Linked DNA regions of Homo sapiens: regions 2 and 3 are each linked to region 1. The links come from fine-mapping of genetic effects on gene expression. A gene starts in region 1. Each other region holds a variant in brackets. All regions are shown on one strand. Distances are from middle to middle.

Evidence for each region.
Region 2: its variant is fine-mapped to the expression of CNKSR1 in blood mononuclear cells (TOPMed, PIP 0.97).
Region 3: its variant is fine-mapped to the expression of CNKSR1 in whole blood (TOPMed, PIP 0.91).

The regions. Positions count from the first base shown.
Region 1 is chr1:26,173,496-26,180,376 of GRCh38, forward strand. It overlaps CNKSR1 (connector enhancer of kinase suppressor of Ras 1), which reads left to right and starts at 3,996. Exons shown (of 21, transcript NM_006314.3): 1 at 3,996-4,104. The coding sequence starts at 4,053.
Region 2 is chr1:26,196,201-26,201,200 of GRCh38, forward strand. CATSPER4 (cation channel sperm associated 4) reads left to right here. Exons shown (of 10, transcript NM_198137.2): 4 at 1,486-1,583; 5 at 1,757-1,877; 6 at 2,086-2,219; 7 at 3,684-3,858; 8 at 4,630-4,841. Among named protein-coding and RNA genes, the nearest start is that of CATSPER4, 8.1 kb to the left of the region's middle. RefSeq lists an enhancer at 1,772-2,271. The variant T/C (reference allele first, on the strand shown) is at 2,692.
Region 3 is chr1:26,268,316-26,275,196 of GRCh38, forward strand. It overlaps CEP85 (centrosomal protein 85), which reads left to right. Exons shown (of 14, transcript NM_001319944.2): 8 at 168-320; 9 at 1,145-1,299; 10 at 2,699-2,792; 11 at 3,706-3,756; 12 at 6,649-6,756. Among named protein-coding and RNA genes, the nearest start is that of SH3BGRL3, 8.3 kb to the right of the region's middle. The variant T/C (reference allele first, on the strand shown) is at 3,475.

The DNA.
Region 1 (6,881 bases):
TCAGCCGGGCGTGGTGGTTTACGCCTGTAATCCCAGCACTTTGAGAGGCCGAGGCAAGGAGATCACTTGAGGTCAGGAGTTTGAGACCAGCCTGGTCAACATGGTGAAACCCCATCTCTACTAAAAATACAAAATTAGCCGAGCATGGTGGCACACGCCTGTAATCCCAGCTACTTGGGAGGCAGAGGCAGGAGAATAGCTTGAACCTGGGAGGCGGAGGTTGCAGTGAGCCAAGATCATGCCATTGCACTCCAGCCTGGGCAACAAGAGCAAAGCTCTGTCTCAAAAAAATAGATAAAAATAAATAGAAGCTGCCACTTACTGTGTTCCTAACTGCCTAACCCTGGCAGATGCTGGGAGCGTAGAGTAAAGGCGCCGTGGTTCAGGGAGAGAGGGGGCTGGTTCTCACCTCTGGTGGCAGCTCAGGAAAGATATTTGATGAAATCAAGATCTGTCTACCGAACACTGATAAAGGCTCTATTAGAATTTACTGGACTTCCCCAGAGTGCCACAGGGAGGCTGCTGCATGAAGAGGCAAAAATGTTAAACGAGGATGCAGCACGGAGTGTTCAAGGGACACAGACCTGAGGCAAAAGACAAAGCTGGAGACGGGCATTTTGCAAATTTGAAGCCAACTGGCTCACAAAATGAAAGAGGCTGTTAATACCAAGTGTGAAGGTGGGATGGCATCACCAGAGCTGGCCAAGTTCAGAGAAGCTGGAAATCTCAATTTGGATGTGACGTTATTAAATGATGACAACACACGTACACTACATGGGCCAACCATGGGCGAAATTCAGACTTTGGGTCTCTGGGTTACAGGTAAGGTCGTGACAGGCTTTGATGACTGGGGGTGCTGCAGAAATTCTGAAGTAGGTGACAACAGGTAGCTCCTCCCCACAGAATTAAAGCAATAATAACTCATATCTACCCCATGATACAGATTTCAAAGTACTTAATGTCATCACAGTGCTAAGGCCTAGGAATCCCCTTCTGGAGACAAAGAAACAGATTCAGAGAGCTGTAGAAGTTGGGCTGAGTCACATAGCAGTTGAGTATGGAACTGATTTTATCTGATTTTTTTTTTTTTTGAGACAGAGTTTTGCTCTTGTTGCCCAGGTTGGAGTGCAGTGGCGCAATCTCGGCTCACTGCAACCTCTGCTTCCGGGTTCAAGCAATTCTCCTGTCTCAGCCTTCCGAGTTGCTGGGATTATAGGCGCCCGCCACCACGACCGGCTAATTTTTTGGATTTTTAGTACAGACAGGGCTTCTCTATGTTGGCCAGGCTGATCTCGAACTCCTGACCTCAGATGATCCACCCGCCTTGGCCTCCCAAAGTGCTGGGATTACAGGCATGAGCCACCGCGCCCGGCCTTTTTTTTTTTGAGGTGGAGTTTCACTTTTGTTGCCCAGGCTGGAGTGCAATGACGCGATCTCAGCTCACCGCTACCTCTACCTCATGAGTTCAAGCAATTCTCCTGCCTCAGCCTCCCGAGTACCTGGGATTACAGGCATGTGCCACCACACCCGGCTAATTTTGTATTTTTAGTAGAGATGGGGTTGCTCCATGTTGGTCAGGCTGGTCTCGAACTCCTGACCTCAGGTGATCCGCCCGCATAGGTCTCCTGAAGTGCTGGGATTACAGGCCTGAGCCACCACGCCCGGCTGATTTTATCTGATTCTAAAGTCCTGGGAGTCCCCTGACCTGATGATGATGATGAAAATGAACATTTACTATGTGTCAGATATTTTTCTAAGATTAAAGCTCTTGCTCTGAGGTTCAGAATTCAGGGGATCCATAAACTTGGATGGGAAAAAATTATATTTTTATTTTTGCTAAACTCTAACCAAAATTTATGATTTCCTTCTATATGGATTGAAGCAGTAGCAGTATCTTTGGCTTAGTCACCAATAGAAATCACATATTTTCATATCAAATTGTAGTTATTGCAAGTATCTCAAAATATTTATGCTCAAGTGATTTCAAAATCACAGTGGTTGTTAAACCACCACTAAATTGTTCGTGAGCAACTTCTGTTTCAGATGCTCCTGTGATGTAGCCGCCATTAATTGGTTACCTCCAGGCTTAGCAGTGGTTCAGTGACCAAAGGGCGAATCTGCCTGTTCTGAGTAGGGCTTCTCCACTCTTCTGCATTCCCTGTCTTTTTTTTTTTTTTTTTGAGACGAAGTCTTGCTCTGTCGCCCAGGCTAGAGTGCAGTGGCGCGAACTCGGCTCACTGCAAGCTCTGCCTCCTGGGTTCACGCCATTCTCCTGCCTCAGCCTCCTGAGTAGCTGGGACTACAGGCGCCCGCCACCATGCCTGGCTAATTTTTTGTATTTTTAGTAGAGACGGGGTTTCACCATGTTAGCCAGGATGGTCTCGATCTCCTGACCTCATAATCCGCCCGTCTCGATTATAGGCGTGAGCCACCATGCCCGGCCCAGCATTCCCTGTTTTTAGTTGTTTGCTGATCAATATGTAAGAGGAGGGGCGTCAAAGACCACCCCACAGTTTAATGTCCTTATTCAAGCTGGTCGACAACACACTGAGGTCATTAAAAAAGAAAAATTTAACTTTCGGCCAGTCTTATTAATGTTAGTAAACACATAATATAAATTTCTGGTTTTATTTTTTTGAGATGGGCTCCTGCTATGTTGCCCAGGGTGGCTTTGACTCCTGGGCTTGAGTGATACTCCCCCGCTCAACCTCTCAACCTCTCGAGTAGCTGGGACTACAGTCGTGTGCCAGCACTCCCCAGCTCCAAATTTTTTTTTTGTTTTTTGTGGGTTTTTTTTTTGAGACGGAGTCTTGCTTTGTTGCCAGGCTGGAGTGCAGAGGCGTGATCTCAGCTCACTGCAACCTCCGCCTCCCAGGTTCAAGCGATTCTCCTGCCTCAGCCTCCTGAGTAGCTGTGACTACAGGCGTGCACCACCACACCCAGCTAATTTTTGTATTTTTAGTAGAGACGGGGTTTCACCATGTTGGGCAGGCTGGTTTCCATCTCTTAACCTCATGATCCACCCGCCTTGGCCTTCCAAAGTGCTGGAATTACAGGCGTGAACCACCATGCCCGGCCAAATTTGTTTTTAAATATAGTTTTGATAATTGTTCTCATTGTAATCCTAAGCATTTTGTTTTGTGCATTTATTTATTTATTTATAATACAGAGTTTTGCTCTGTTGCCCAGGCTGGAGTGCAGTGGCACGATCTTGGCTCACTGGAACCTCCCCCTCCTGGGTTCAAGGGATTCTCCTGCCTCAGCCTCCTGAGTAGCTGGGATTACAAGCACCCACTACGCCCAGCTAATTTTTTGTATTTTTAGTAGAGATGGTGTTTCACCATATTGGCCAGGCTGGTCTTGAACTCCTGATCTCAAGTGATCCGCCCACCTCGGCCTCCCAAAGTGCTGGGATTACAGGCGTGAGCCACCGCGCCCGGCCTGTTTTATGCCTTTATAAGCAGCTATTCTGAGAAAGCATTCACAGGCCTCACCAGATGCCAGAGTCCATACTGCAAAATCCAAGGGAGGCTAAACACCCCAGTTCTAAATGTTTTCAAGCCATTCAGATACTGTGCACAGCTGCCCTTTGAAGTACGGTCTATTATATCTCTTTTACAGACCCAGAAACTGAGGCGCAGAAGTTAGGGTCAGCCCCAGGTCACACAGCTAACAAGAGCTGGCCTAGGCACCCAGGGACCTGGCCCCCTAGCCTCTGTGCTTTGCTACTGATTTCAGCGCTCCTCTTGTGGCTTTTTCTTGAGGAGCCCAAGGGTCAGGGTCCCACCCCGCGATATGAGGCCAGTGGCACTGCCCCCTAGCAGGCGCGAGATGCCAGAGCCCTAGGATGTCTGAAGGGCCGGGCAGGAGGCGGACGGGCGTGGGCCAATGGCTGTCGCAGTGCCTCATCTTGCCGTCTGTGTGAGCCCAGGTATGCAGTAGGCTCCGCCCAGGACCCAGCCCGGCCCCTCCTTAGGCCTGGGCTCTGGGAGCGGAAATTCCGGCGACAGCAGGGCAAAACAGGAGCTGATTCGAGCTGGCAGAGCTGGGCCATGGAACCGGTAGAGACCTGGACCCCCGGAAAGGTGGCAACTTGGCTGAGAGGTGGGTGGGGCTGGGGTAGAGTTGGGCTTGAAGGGGACTAGGTGTGGTGTCCCACCGGGAAGCGGGAGGAGAGGAAAAGGAAAAAAAATCTGCGGACTGGGTGCGCTGGTTCACACCTGTAATCCCAGCACTTTGGGAAGCCAAGGTGGGTGGGTCACCTGAGGTCGGGAGTTCAAGACCAGCATGGTGAAACCCCGTCTCTACTAAAAATACAAAAATTATCTGGGGGTGGTGGCAGGTGCCTGTAATCCCAGCTACTTGGGAGGCTGAGGCAGGAGAATCGCTTGAACCCAGGAGGCAGAGGTTACAGTGAGCCGAGATTGCACCGCTGCACTCCAGTCTGGACGACAGAGCGAGATTCAGCTCAAAAGAAAAAAAAAAATAATAAACTGCGGGCTCTATCAGTCGGTCAGTCAGTCAACAAATATTTACAGAGCACCTAACATGTTCCAGGAACCGTGCTGGGCAGAGAGACAGATGAGATGACCCTGGGGGGCCCAAGGACCCAGAAGGGGGCCCCTCATCATGGCAGTAGCCCAAGAGGCCTCTAGGGTGATAATGGGGAGGCGGTGTCATGAAAACAGGAGGGAGGCCTGACAGGCCCACACCCACTGTATCTCCTTCATCTTCCCTGGCCCCAGGGCCAGTGGGCTGTTGTTAAATCCGTTTCTTAGAGTCAGAAACTGACACACAGAGCCAGGAAATGATTTGCTCAGTCTCTGGTGTCATTTTCCCCGCTCCACACCCTGAGCTCCTAGTGACAGAAGCAGAAGCCCTAGGCCAGACTGAAGAGGTTGACACAGCCCCACCCTGGGGCTCCTATCCAAGGGGCAAGGTGCTGTCCAGGCTCAGCGAGCCCACACAGATGGGAAGCAACACACCCCACAGGCAGACTCAGAGAAGGAAGGGCCTCCTGACACACAGTGCGACCAGGAGCAGGCAGTCAGGACACCCCTCCCAGAGTGGGGAGCTGGAGCGCACTAGAGACAGGCTCAGGAGGACCAGCCCGGGTAAGGGCAGGAATTCAGGGCTGGGTTCAGACTCCCAGGCTGGATTCCAGGCCCACCCCCACCGCTTGCCAGCTCTGTGACCATAGGTCTTAGTTTTTCTGTCCATCAAATGGGAAAGGCAACTCTGACCTTATGAAGTCGACAAAGTGAGACAATCATGACATAGTTCATTTGTAGCTCAATGCCTGGGTCTATTGGGAGGGCACCAGCCCAATACAGTCACCGTGCAGGAAGGAGGTGGCTCAGGGGCCCATAGCCAGGGAGTGATAGGTTCATGAACTCCCAGTCCAGTGCTCTCAATGTGACACAGGGAACACACACACACACCTCCCCCAGTGAAGGAGCCTGGCTTAGAAGGGGAAGAATTCCTTCGAAGAGTGAGCAAGCTACTTAACCTCTGTGTCAGTTTTCCCATCTGTAAGCAGGATAATGATAGTCTTTACCTCCTAGAAATGCAGTGAGAATCAAATGTGTTAATATGTGTAAAGCTCTTATAGATTTGCATAGCACATAGTAAGCCCTCAATAGACACTTTTCTTATTTTTCAGTGCCTACCTTGTCCAGGCACAGGCCGGGGGTTAGAGACAAATGGTTATCTAAGGCCTGATCTTTGAAGAGCCTGTGATAAAATGGGAAAGACCGATGGTCAAGTGCAGGGGTTTGTGGAGGCTCAGGGGCAGTGGGAACAAGAGGAGAGCCCTCCATCCCACTCAGCCTGGGAAGTTATGGAAGGCTTCCTGGAGGAAGTTAGATGAAAAAGGAAGTGAAGGAGATAGAAGAGCAACGCCAGCAGGAGGAATAGCACTTGCAAGGACGCTGAGGTAAAAGGGTGTTCCAGGAGCTGCAAGGAATTAGCTCTGTGCATCTGAAATGTTGAGTTTAGGGGGCTCTTCAGGATATGATGCTGGAAAGGGAGGTAGTAGCCTAATCATACAGGGCCTGTAGGTCATGGTAAAGTCTGGCAATAATAATATGATGGCTATTATTGGCTGTCTCCCACGAACCAGACAGTGGCCAAGGCCTTGACATATGTTGTGTCATTCAATACACACATGATTAGAAGGTAGGTACTTTTATTATTCTCACATTACAGGTGAGAAAACTGGGCACAGAGCAGTGCTATTACTTGCTCAAGTGTTCACAGTGTCTCAGTGACTCCATAGCCTCTTGTTCTTATCCCCTGTATCATTAGTTCTCAAACTTAAGGGAGCATCACAGTCACCTGCATTAAAATACAAACTGCTGGCTGGGCGTCGTGGCTCACACCTGTAATTCTAGCACTTTCAGAGACTGAGGCAGTCAAATTGCTTGAGCCCAGGAGTTCGAGACTAGCCTGGGCAACATGGTGAAATCCCACCTCTGCAAAAAATACAAAAATTAGCTGGGTGTGGTGGTGTGTGCCTGTAGTCCCAGCTACTTGGGAGGCTGAGGTGGGAGGATGGATTGAGCCTAGGAGGTCAAGGCTGCAGTGAGCCGTGACTGTGTCTCAAGCCCCTGTCTCAAAAAGAAAAAACAAAACAAAAACAAAAAAAAGACTGCTGGGCCCCAACCTCAGAGTTTCTGATTCAGCAGGTGTGGGGTGAGGCCTGATAATTTGCATTTCTAACAAGTTCTCCGGTGAGTCTGCTGCTGCTGGTCTGGGGGCCACTTTTAAGAACCCATGTCCTATACTTTCCTGCTTCTCAACTCAGTGGCCTCATCTGTGAAATGGGCAGAACAGCCTGGGTGTCAGAGTTGTCATTAGGGTTAGACTAGAGGGAAAAGAGC
Region 2 (5,000 bases), 22 kb after region 1:
GCAAACTCTTGGCCTCAAGCAATCCTCTCCCGCCAGCCTCTCAAAGCACCAGGATTACAGGCAAGGGTCACCATACCTGGCCTCATTTTTCTTTTTATAGCTACATAGCTACATAGTATTCCATTGATTTAATGGAATTTAATGTGCCATAGTTTATCCAATCAGTCTCTTCTGATCATTTGACACGTTGGTTTTCTTTTCCTTTTTTTTTTTTTTTTTTTTTTTTTTGAGACAGGGTCTCACCCCTGTTGCTCAGGCTGGAGTGCAATGACACCCATTTCGGCTCACTGCAGCCTCGACCTCCTGGGTTCAAGTGATCCTCTCAGCCCTCCAAGTAGCTGGGACTACAGGGGCACATGCCAACACCCCTGTCTAATTTTTATAGTTTTTTGTAGAGACAGGGTTTCACCATGTTGCCCAGGCTGGTCTGGAACTCCTGAGCTCAAGCAATCCTCCCACCTCAGCCTCCCAAAGTGCTGGAATTACAGGCTTGCACCACTGCACCTGGCATGTTGGTTATTCTTAACCTTATACAAATGTAATTTTGTACTTCAACCAGAGTATCTGTGGATCAGATTTCTAGAAGTGTGATCCCTGTTCAGATTTTTCATACCTGTGAGTTTCCTTCTCCTCCCCATCTCATTCCTGTGTAAGTGTCTTATTGGACAAAGGGCTTGCAAAATGTACCAGTCTCCCTTTCTTTCTTTTCTTTCTTTTTTTTTTTTTTTTGAGATTATCACTCTGTCACCCAGGCTGGAGTGCAGTGGCGCAATCTTGGCTCACTGCAACCTCCGCCTCCTGGGTTCAAGCAACTCTCCTGCCTCAGCCTCCCAAGTAGCTGGGACTACAGGCACGTGCCACCATGCCCAGATAATTTTTGTATTTTTAGTAGAGATGGAGTTTCACCATGTTGGCCAGGCTGGTCTCAAACTCCTGACATCGTGATCCACCTGCCTCAGACTCCCAAAGTGCTGGGATTACAGGTGTGAGCCATCGCGCCTGGCCCGCCTGTCTCCCTTTCTTGTGCCGTGAGAGCTATTTCACCTCAGAACTGGCTACTGAAGCAGTATTCCTTATGTTTTTACTAGTATCCATTTTCATTTTATTATTAATTGTAGTGTGTGTCACACAAAGGCAGGAACAGCCAAGTGTTTTCATGTTACCTACCTGTAGGGCAAGGCTGTTTTGAGCATGCTTTAGCCAAGGTGGGCACTCAGCTTAGGGACCAGCCATGTATCTGTAAGGGTCTTTGCTGTGTGTCTCTGAGACTGCATTTGGCTATTGACACATGTATGGGACAGAGAGTACACGTGTGTTTTGTGGCTTGTTTGGGGGGCGGCAGGGTAACAGCAGTGGATGGCAGCTGACTGGCCCTGCTCTGAGAGGGACATTGAGCCCTCATCCCTGGGATGTGGGGAGGGCAGACCTAGGATGCCCCCATGGGCTGGGCCTGACAGACCCCACTGGGGCTGGCCCACTCCCCAGGACGGCTGGAACATCCTCAACTTCATTATCGTCTTTATCTTGCTCTTGCGGTTCTTCATTAATGAAATCAATATTCCCTCCATCAACTACACTCTCAGGTGAGCGGGGAGCTCTGGAGAAATGAGGGGGACCTATCTGGAACCCAGGAATGAGATGGGGGGATAACGACCAGCTGGAGATCAGCTTTGCCTCTCTGGGCAGCTGGTGGGGGTAATGAGGAGGGAAGGGGCTGGGAAGGGCCTAGGGGCACCCCTGACAGGCTCTGCCACAGGGCGCTTCGTCTGGTGCATGTGTGCATGGCGGTGGAGCCCCTCGCCCGGATCATCCGCGTCATCCTGCAGTCGGTGCCTGACATGGCCAATATCATGGTCCTCATCCTCTTCTTCATGCTGGTCAGTGCCTGCCCCCGCCCCCAGCTGTTTCCCTTCCCTGAACAGGGCCCTTGGGTCATTGCAAATAGAGGGGTGTCTGGAAAAGCAGAGAGGCCTGTGGGCCTGAATCCCTGTGATTTCCTCAGCAGCGTTCATTTACATGACATTTGTGTGTCCTATTTCCAGGCCCTTTGGTGAAGTCGGGGTGGGGCTCTTTTCTCTCTGACAGGTTTTTTCCGTGTTTGGAGTAACACTCTTTGGTGCATTCGTGCCCAAGCATTTCCAGAACATACAGGTTGCGCTGTACACCCTCTTCATCTGCATCACCCAGGACGGCTGGGTGGACATCTACAGTGACTTCCAGTGAGTGCCAGTGGGACTTCCAGCCTCATCCCACCTATGGGGCAGGGTAGCCGGTGGAGCTCCAGGCTGAGAGTGGGAGCTCCAGGGATTGGGATGAGGATGGCCCAGTAGAAGTGGGGGTTCCCAGGTCTTTAAACAGAGGAAAAGGAAATACCTGGACTTGTGATACCTGAAGCCTTGTCACCCTTGAATCTCCATATATTCAGAGTCCCATTCCCACCCTGTAATGGGGACCTCTCCCATCATGCTAACCAGCTGGGTAGTTGGCCTTGGATAAGGCAGCAGGTCTGCAGTTATGCCTCAGGTTACAGAGCAACCTCCCAGCCCACCTTGGAGCCCACCAAACTGCCTGAACTCCTGGGAACTTCAGGTCTCATTTCATTCATTCTTAAACCCACTGCCCACATTCATTTTTGTGTTCTGTTCTTTACCTCTTTTCTATTAAGTCTAAGCCCTATTTCTTTCCAGTTTA[T/C]TCCAGAAAGTGGGACCCCTTAACTGATTTCTTTTTATCTTCTACATGTGAGTATAGAAGCCCAGTAGATAAAGGGCTTCTACAGTCATTCTCCATTATGGCATAGGTAGTGGATAAAAATCAGGCTGGCCGGGGCCGGGCGCGGTGGCTCACGCCTGTAATCCCAGCACCTTGGGAGGCCGAGGTGGGCAGCTCACGAGGTCAGATCAAGGCTATCCTGGCTAACACAGTGAAACCCCATCTCTACTAAAAATACAAAAACAAAGCCCAGTGCAGTGGCTCACACCTGTAATCCCAGCACTTTGGGAGGCTGAGGCAGGTGGATCACAAGGTCAGGAGTTCAAGACCAGCCTGGCCAAAAAGGTGAAACCCCGTCTCTACTAAATATACAAAAATTAGCCGGACGGTGGGGCGCCTGTAATCCCAGCTACTCAGGAGGCTAAGGCAGGAGAATCGCTTGAACCTGGGAGGCGGAGGTTGCGGTGAACCCATATCACGCCACTGCACTCCAGCTTAGGTGACAGAGTGAGACTCTGTCTCAAAAAAAAAAAAAAAAAATTAGCCAGGCGTGGTGGCAAGCACCTGTAGTCTCAGCTACTTGGGAGGCTGAGGCGGGAGAACGACATGAACCCAGGAGGTGGAGCTTGCAGTGAGCCGAGATCACGCCACTTCACTCCAGTCTGGGCAACACAGCGAGACTCCATCTCAAAAAAAAAAAAAGGAGTGTAGCTAATAGATTAAACTTAATAGTGTTGATGTGCACGTCCCCACCTTGCAGGGTTGGTTAGAGAATCAGCTCACTGTCTGGCAGCACAGTAGGTGCTTAGTAGAGAGCAGCTATTGAGACAGGAGTAGGGAATGGGATCTGCACAACAGCAGTGACACAGGCAGAAGTTCTAGTAGGCCTTGGGATGATTTTCCCATTTCAATGACAAGGAAACTCAGGCTTGAAGGGCCAGGGAAATGATGGGGCCCCTGCCTGCCATCTGCAGGACAGAGAAGAGGGAATATGCAATGGAGATTGGGGGTGCCATCTACTTTACCATCTTCATCACCATCGGTGCCTTCATTGGCATCAACCTGTTCGTCATCGTGGTGACCACCAACCTGGAGCAAATGATGAAGGCAGGAGAGCAGGGACAACAGCAACGAATAACCTTTAGTGAGGTGCGTGGGATGGGGAGGGCAGAAGGGAGGAAAAGGAGTGTGTATGAGAGCGGACTTGAACATATGTGCATGTATGTGTGTGCTTGCATAATCAAGGGCCTGGAGAAAGCCAAGTTGGAGGCCTGGAGGCAGCAGCCCCCCATCTTGAGTGCCCACCCACCAACTGGGGCTTCTGAGGGGTGTGGATTTTCTAGATGTTAGATTTCTATGGCAACTCAAAACTGAGCAGCTGGGTGACCTTGGGGCATTTACCCACTCTAAGCCTCAATTTTTTTCTTTTGTAAAATGGGAATAATAATAGTACTTAACTCATAGGGTTATTTTATGAGGGTTAATGGGTAAATGAACAGTGCTTGGCGCATAGTAAGCACTCAATAAATGTTAGCTACGGTATTATTCATTCAGGGCAGTACTTCCATAAGGTTGGGGAAAGGGGTGGAGTACTTCTAAAAGAGTGGAGTGCTGGAGGCCTGGGCTTGAGGGTAGGCAGGGCTTTATAAATTTGCTGGGTAGGGTTTATCAGGGTTGAAATCTGGGGCAGGGCTAAATTTTGAAATGGGGTGAGAATTTTTAAAGAGGTGGGGGGAGGTCATGTGCATTTAAAGTTGGGTTCCCCCAGCAAGGCAGTGAGGCTAAGATTGGTGAGAGCTGAAATGAGGGCCTTAGAACCCTGGGGTCCTAAGAGACTCATCCTGAAGCCAAGCAGGAAAAGGGTGCCGGGGGCGTGCCTGCCTGAGCTGTCCCGACCCCTCTCTATCCCCCGCTTCCCAGACAGGCGCAGAGGAAGAGGAGGAGAATGACCAGCTGCCACTGGTGCATTGTGTGGTCGCCCGCTCGGAGAAATCTGGTCTCCTCCAGGAACCCCTTGCGGGAGGCCCCCTGTCGAACCTCTCAGAAAACACGTGTGACAACTTTTGCTTGGTGCTTGAGGCAATACAGGAGAACCTGAGGCAGTACAAGGAGATCCGAGATGAACTCAACATGTAGGGGAGGGTACTGGGGCTGCCCCCAAGTCATGTGAGTCAAGGCTGGGCGGAGCGTCAGAGTCTTCTGGCCTCACGCCCTCACCATTTATAAGGCAGAGCCTGGGCCCCACAGAGGTCCCCCACCCTATTGGTGGAGGAACTGGAATCCAGACTCCA
Region 3 (6,881 bases), 95 kb after region 1:
GCCGTGGTAGTGTGTGCCTGCAGTCCCAGCTACTCCAGGGGCTGAGGTAGGAGGATCACTTGAGCCTGGGAGGTGGAGGCTGCAGTCAGCTGAGATCACAGCACTGCACTCCAGCAGGGTCATAGTGGAGTGAATGGTGGAGACAGACTTGACATTTATTTTCCTAGGTCAAAGGTCGTGATAAACATATCAATAATTTGAAAAAGAAATGCCAGAAGGAATCAGAGCAGAACCGGGAGAAGCAGCAGCGTATTGAGACCTTGGAGCGCTACCTGGCTGACCTGCCCACACTGGAAGACCATCAGAAGCAGAGCCAGCAGGTAGCAGCAATGTCTTGGCATGCCTGGGGTGATCAGGGAGTGGCCAGGCAGGGGAACTTTTTCATCATCTGCTGTATGCAGTTATCCTGTGACTTGCTGAAAGGAGAATCCCAAAGCAGTCATGTCCAGATTCATAATTGTCAGATTTGTAACCAGACTGCAAATTTTTTGAGGTACCCAGACAGAGTCTTCCTTATGTTAAAGTGAACCCCAAGTTTCTCTTCAAAGAATCAGTAAGTTCAGGTCTCTTACTCTTTGATTCACTATTTTAAAGTTTAACTTCCTGGTTCTCTTCGCCCTCTTGCTTCTAGTTTCAGTAAACAACCTTTTCCACCAGTTTTAATCAGTAGTTCACATCTGTTCCCCCGGTCACCTACTCCGTCCTGACTCATCCCGGTCACCTGCTTTGACCTGAGTCACCCTGGTCACCTGCTCTGACCTAAGTCACCTTTAATTACCTGTTCCTAACTGTCCTTCCCACCAAACTACTCACCCCACCACTCTGGCTCATAAACCTGTTCCCTTTAAAATAGCCAATCAGAATTAGCTTAGACTGTGTGGTTCAACCCTAGCCAATAGGGGAACGACATAGCAGTAGGGACTACCTGCGTCAGAAATAAGAACTCCTTCCCCTCCCCTGTCCAGTTGTGTTCTCACCATTGTTCCATCTGCGAGGAGCACCCTTTCTGCAGAAAGTAAAAATTGCCTTGCTGAGGAAATTAAATATAGGTTTGAGTGCTATTTCTTTGTGACACCGAGGAACAAGCATTTTGCATTTATAACACTTGGCTTATTTGACCTAAACATGGGATCCTGTCTCTCAGCTTAAGGATTCTGAGTTGAAGAGCACAGAGCTGCAGGAGAAAGTGACTGAGCTGGAGAGTTTGCTGGAGGAGACCCAGGCAATCTGCAGAGAGAAGGAGATTCAACTGGAAAGCCTGAGGCAGAGAGAAGCAGAATTCTCCTCCGCTGGACATAGGTAAATAACCCTGTGGGACTGAGAGGAGTGGAGAGTTAAGTTTTTTGTCATAGCCATCCTGCTCACTTACCTGTGTGACTTTGGGTGATTTGGGAAAATCATTTTACTTATCTGAGCTTTGTTTTCTTTGGACTGTGAATAATAGGAAAGCTGCTTATGGGAAGCGGCTTTTTTTTTTTTTTTTTTTTTTGAGACGGAGTCTTGCTCTGTCGCCCAGGCTGGAGTGCAGTGGTGCAATCTTGGCTCACTGCAAGCTCCGCCTCCCAGGTTCACACCATTCTCCTGCCTCAGCCTCCTGAGTAGCTGGGACTACAGGCGCCCGCCACTGCGCCTGGCTAATCTTTTTTGTATTTTTAGTAGAGACGGGGTTTCACCGTGGTCTCGATCTCCTGACCTCGTGATCCACCCTCCTTGGCCTCCCAAAGTGCTGGGATTACAGGTGTGAGCCACCGCGCCCGGCCAGGAAGCGGCTTTTATATCTTTGGCATGGAGTATGGATGCAGTGGGGGCTTATCTTCATAGCCTTTGTAAGGATCTAACCCAGTGCCTGGCACATAATTCTTAGTATGTATGTGTTGAATAAATGAAAGCACTTTGTAAACTGGGAAATGAGGTGTCTGTATACTTTCAAAAGTGGGTACTGGTGATAAGAACTGAGAGTTATCCACAGTTCGAGCTGTGTAGGCTAAAGGCTACCAGGAGCCTTTCTCCTCAGCCCTAGGGATTGTTCTCCATTGCCATGACAGGTTCTGAGAACAAAACAAGATGCCATAATGTACTCTCAGGATGTCTTGGGAGCCTTCTCCATATTAATAGCAGTTTCTGAAAATAATGGTGTGTTTCAACAGCCTCTTGGACCAAATCCAGTTTCTAATGGGATAGATTGGATTTCTCATCCCATATTTAACCACAGTGTCCCTGTTGTTTATCTCAGCAGATGGGCTTTGCTATAAGTAATTGTAGGGACCCACTGGAGGAAACCATTGGTTAGAGTCAGAAGTGGGGTTAGAGGACAAAGTTGGCTTTGCCCCAGACTGTGTGTGCCAAGAAAACAGCTTTTGTATTTTCCAAACTTTCTACAATGTACATGTATGACTTACAATCTAAATACATGTGATAAATATGTATTTTTTAAATATCAAAACAAAATACACAAGAGCCTTGGGCAGGTAGAGAATTGGTGTCACATTGTATAGATTCTGGCCCTTAGGGAAGAGAATTAACATACACTGAGCAGCTTTTGTGTGGCACCCCATATATTACAGCAGACCCAAGTATTATCCCCAGCTACTGCTTGGACTAAGTGTCTTGCCTCAAAATGTGCAATAAGTAGCAGAACCAAGAATCAAAGCCACTTGTGTCTAACTTCAGAGTTCTTGAAGAGGCCACTGTCTTTCAGCCTGCAAGATAAACAGTCTGTGGAGGAGACCAGTGGAGAAGGTCCAGAAGTGGAAATGGAGTCCTGGCAGAAGCGATACGATTCGCTCCAAAAGGTGACTGAGGGTGTCCAGGCTGTAACGGAGGGTAGGCTGGGAGGAAAGAGAAGATTGTGTATTAGGAGGGATACGTGAATTCTTGGCTTTGGGCTATCTAGGATTTGTTACCAAGAGCTTTTCTTTCTTTTCGGAGAAGTCACCCTGCATAGTAATTTGTATTTAGATAGTCATCCTTGTAACAGGCAAACTTCACTCATTTAGAATATAGGCAAAAGTAAGAGGAGGGGTGATATGCCTCTGAATATCTAGATTAGATGACCCAAAATGGTGCAGTAAAGTTTGGTGCACTTTATTCATGGCTCAGGCCCATACAGAAACCCTTGAATTGAACAGAGTTCTAACCAGTGAGGTGCCCTGGTTTCTTAATTCAGCAAAGACGAGAGAGCCAGGGGCCGGCTGGTGAAACTGACTGCAGGTTAGTAAAAAAAAAAGAAGACCCATAAATGATTCAAAGAAACCAGGCCTATTTAGGGTCCCTTCTTGGATAATCAGTACGACCAGAGCTGTAAATAACAACAACCATCATAGTGCTAGAAATGGCAAGCTTCATTAGACTGAATTTTTAGCCATGTCCTTGTACCAAAGAACAAGAGTTTGCACTGGCTGTTTATAAAATTGATTCCACTGGCCTGCAGTTATTAGGGTGAGAGTTCCCTTTCCCCCAGTAGTGGTTATGTGT[T/C]CACACTACATTCCTGTATAAACCTTTGTGATTGGAGCACAACTGTGAAGCTAGTTAGCCAGGATTAGGAGTCTGGTTTATATTCCTATAGGTAGAGTTCACTAATCTTTATCCTGGTCTTACTCTTAATGGTCTAATAGCCAGACCACATGTCCTAGTGCAGCCCCCTTGCCCTCTGTCCTCACCGTCAGCCTTGTGCTCGCAGCCTTCCTTGATAACTTTGCCTTTCAGATTGTGGAGAAGCAGCAGCAGAAGATGGATCAGTTGCGCTCACAAGTACAGGTGAGCAGGAATCCTTGGGACATGGTGGGCAGAACTTAATGATGGAATCTCTAGAATTTAGCCAATATTTATTTTGTTCTCTGCCATGCAGGTTGCTCAGTGTTAGGGATACAAAAAGAATGAGACCCAGTCAGTGCTTTTGAGCCTTGCTGAGAGGACACAAATATAGTAGGGAGTTTCAGCACAGTACTGTGAGAGCAGTCCCCACAGTATCCTGGGGGAGTGCAGGAGAGTCAGTGGGAGGAAGGGAGGTAAAAGAGAGGTTTCTGGAGATCCTGAACCTACAAGGATGAGGAGTTAGCCAGGCAAACAAGAGGAGCTGGATAGGATGTGTTGGATTCCAGATAGGAGGAACAGCATGAGTGGGAACATGGAGACATGAAACAGCATAGTTTGAATGTGGTGCTGCAAGCAGTTTGATACTGCTGACGTATCCACTTTAAGATGGTAAATGGAGACCTGGGCATTCCAGGCTATGGAAGGGCCTTATCTATCAACTAAGTTAGCTTTTATTCTTTATGTAGGTGGTGGGCATCTATTACAGCATTTTTTTTTTTTTTTTTTTTTTTTTTTGGAGACAGAGTCTCGCTCTTGTCGCCCAGGCTGGAGTGCAATGGCGCAATCTCGGCTCACTGTAACCTCTGCCTCCCAGGTTCAAGCAATTCTCCTGCCTCAGCCTCCCGAGTAGCTGGTATTACGGGTGCCCACCATCACGCCCGGCTAATTTTTGTATTTTTTGTAGAGACGGGGTTTCACCACGTTGGCCAGACTGGTCTCGAACTCCTGACCTCAGGTGATCTGCCCGCCTCGGCCTCCCAAAGTGCTGGGATTACAGGCGTGAGCCATCATGCCCAGCCTATTACAGCATGTAATTGGGATGTGATGTGGTCAGGTTTGCAACTCAGGCTCAAGTGTGGAAGATTGGCATCCTGGAGAGAAGAAAGGTCCAGGGGGACTGTTGGAGAAATTCTCGTGAGAGGTGATGAGGGAACCTGGCATAAGGCAGCATAGCAGCGAGGAGATGTGAGGGGACAGATTTAAGTGACTTTAGGAGGTAACATCAAGCGGAATCAGTGACTGACAAGATGTAGGGGTTGAAGAATAGGGAAGAATCAAATATGACTCCAGGTTTCTATTTTGGGCCAGAGTGGGAGTGTCTTTAACTGGGTTCTCCAAGAAATTCTGGGTAAAGCAGGTTCACTCAGCGTCTCTTTGGACTCTAAAAGTTTTCACACCAAAACACCCGAAATGCACTCGTTTTGAGGGAATAAGTGGAGGCTGCAGTCTTGCCTTTGCCATTATGTGGATTGGGCTACGTCTATCTGGTTCACCTCTTTCAAGTCCTGTAAGGAGGTAGTCAAGCCTGGCAAGCATTTTAATACATACCCATTTAAAATCCCAGGTTTTTAGTAGAGTTTTTAATGGATCTCAAAATAGGTTTCCTAGAACCCTTGGGGTTCTGCAAAGTTTGGAAAAGCCTGACATTTTAAATGGCACATTTACCTATGATAAGACTACTTAGGCAAATTAAAATATCAGGTGAGGCCGGACACGGTGGCTCACGCCTGTAATCCCAGCACTTTGGGAGGCCGAGGTGGGCAGATCACAAGGTCAGGAGATTGAGACCATCCTGGCTAACAAGGTGAAACCCTGTCTCTACTAAGAATACAAAAAGATTAGCTGGGCGTGGTGTCATGCACCTGTAGTCCCAGCTACTTGGGAGGCTGAGGCAGGAGAATTGTTTGAACCTGGGAGGTGGAGGTTGCAGTGAGCCGAGATCACGCCACTGCACTCCAGCCAGTCTGGGCGACAGAGTGAAACCCCATCTCAAAATAAATAAATAAATAAATAAATAAATAAAATATATATATATATGTGAATTTGTTGGAATTAGATGGATTCATCATAGTCACTTTGGCTATTTCATGATCATGAGGTGTTTTCCTTAGCAGTTTTTTTTTTTATTAATACCAAATGAGAAATATAAAAAAATTTTCACACTTCATTCAAATCAGTTTCAAAATTTGAGGAAAAATTGAATGAAGAGAATGAGAGGCAGAAGTTTAAAAGCTTAAATATCTCCCTTCCCCTGACCGCTCCTACACACACAAACACAGACACACTTACACACAACTCACTAGATTAGGTACCTGTGAGTATGCTCTTCTACCCCTTTCCATGTCTCTGAACAGCATTTAGTAGACAGTATTGTCAAGAGCACTTGACTGTTAACTCCTAAAAGACAGGAACTGTTTGGTGTTCTTCTCAATGCTGGTCACAGTAAGTGCTCGGTAAATAGTGAACTCAGCTGAATAGCACATTCCCTGCCCTCAAGAAAGTTATGTTTGAGTGGAGCGAAGGATCATGTGCATAGCCAACTAGAATATTAAGCAGATGTACTCGTAAGCCATGATGGATATGATAGCAAGGTAGGATTAGGATTAATTAGATCTGATTTGCAGATTGAAGACAGCTCAGGTGTGCCTTGGAGGTTTCCTGGAGGTAACAGCAGAAGAGCAGCTTGAAGAAAGGAAAAGAGAAGTGAGCAGAAGCATTGACACTGCAGCCTTCAGGGATGAGGGCCAGTCATTCATCGTGACGGTGTAGAGGCTGGCCATGTGGAGGGTGGAAAGAGATATGACTAGAAAAGTAGGTAGGAGCTACAGTGGCCTTGAATGCCCTGCTAAGAAGCTGACCTCTATTTGGTATGTGGTCAAGGGCTATAGGAGGGTTTAAATGGGAGGTCACAAATCAGGACTGTTCTAAAATGATTTCTTATGAGGGTGTAGGTAGGGTGAGTCGTCACTATATAGTCCAAGCCAGCGGTGATATTGTCTGAACCAGACTTGTTACCCCTACTGTGTTCCCTCAACATCTTGCTGTGTGATTCAGAGCCTAGAGCAGGAAGTGGCTCAAGAAGAAGGAACAAGCCAGGCCCTGAGAGAGGAGGCCCAGCGAAGGGATTCAGCCCTGCAGCAGCTGCGCACAGCCGTGAAGGAGGTGAGCAACATTAGTCAGACCTCTTGGTTTTGCCTCCACAAACCCGATTTCTTTGTTTGCCCTCCCCATCTCTACCCCAATAAGAGCCCCAGTGTTTGAAAGGGAAAGGTCCCTACTGAGCTCTG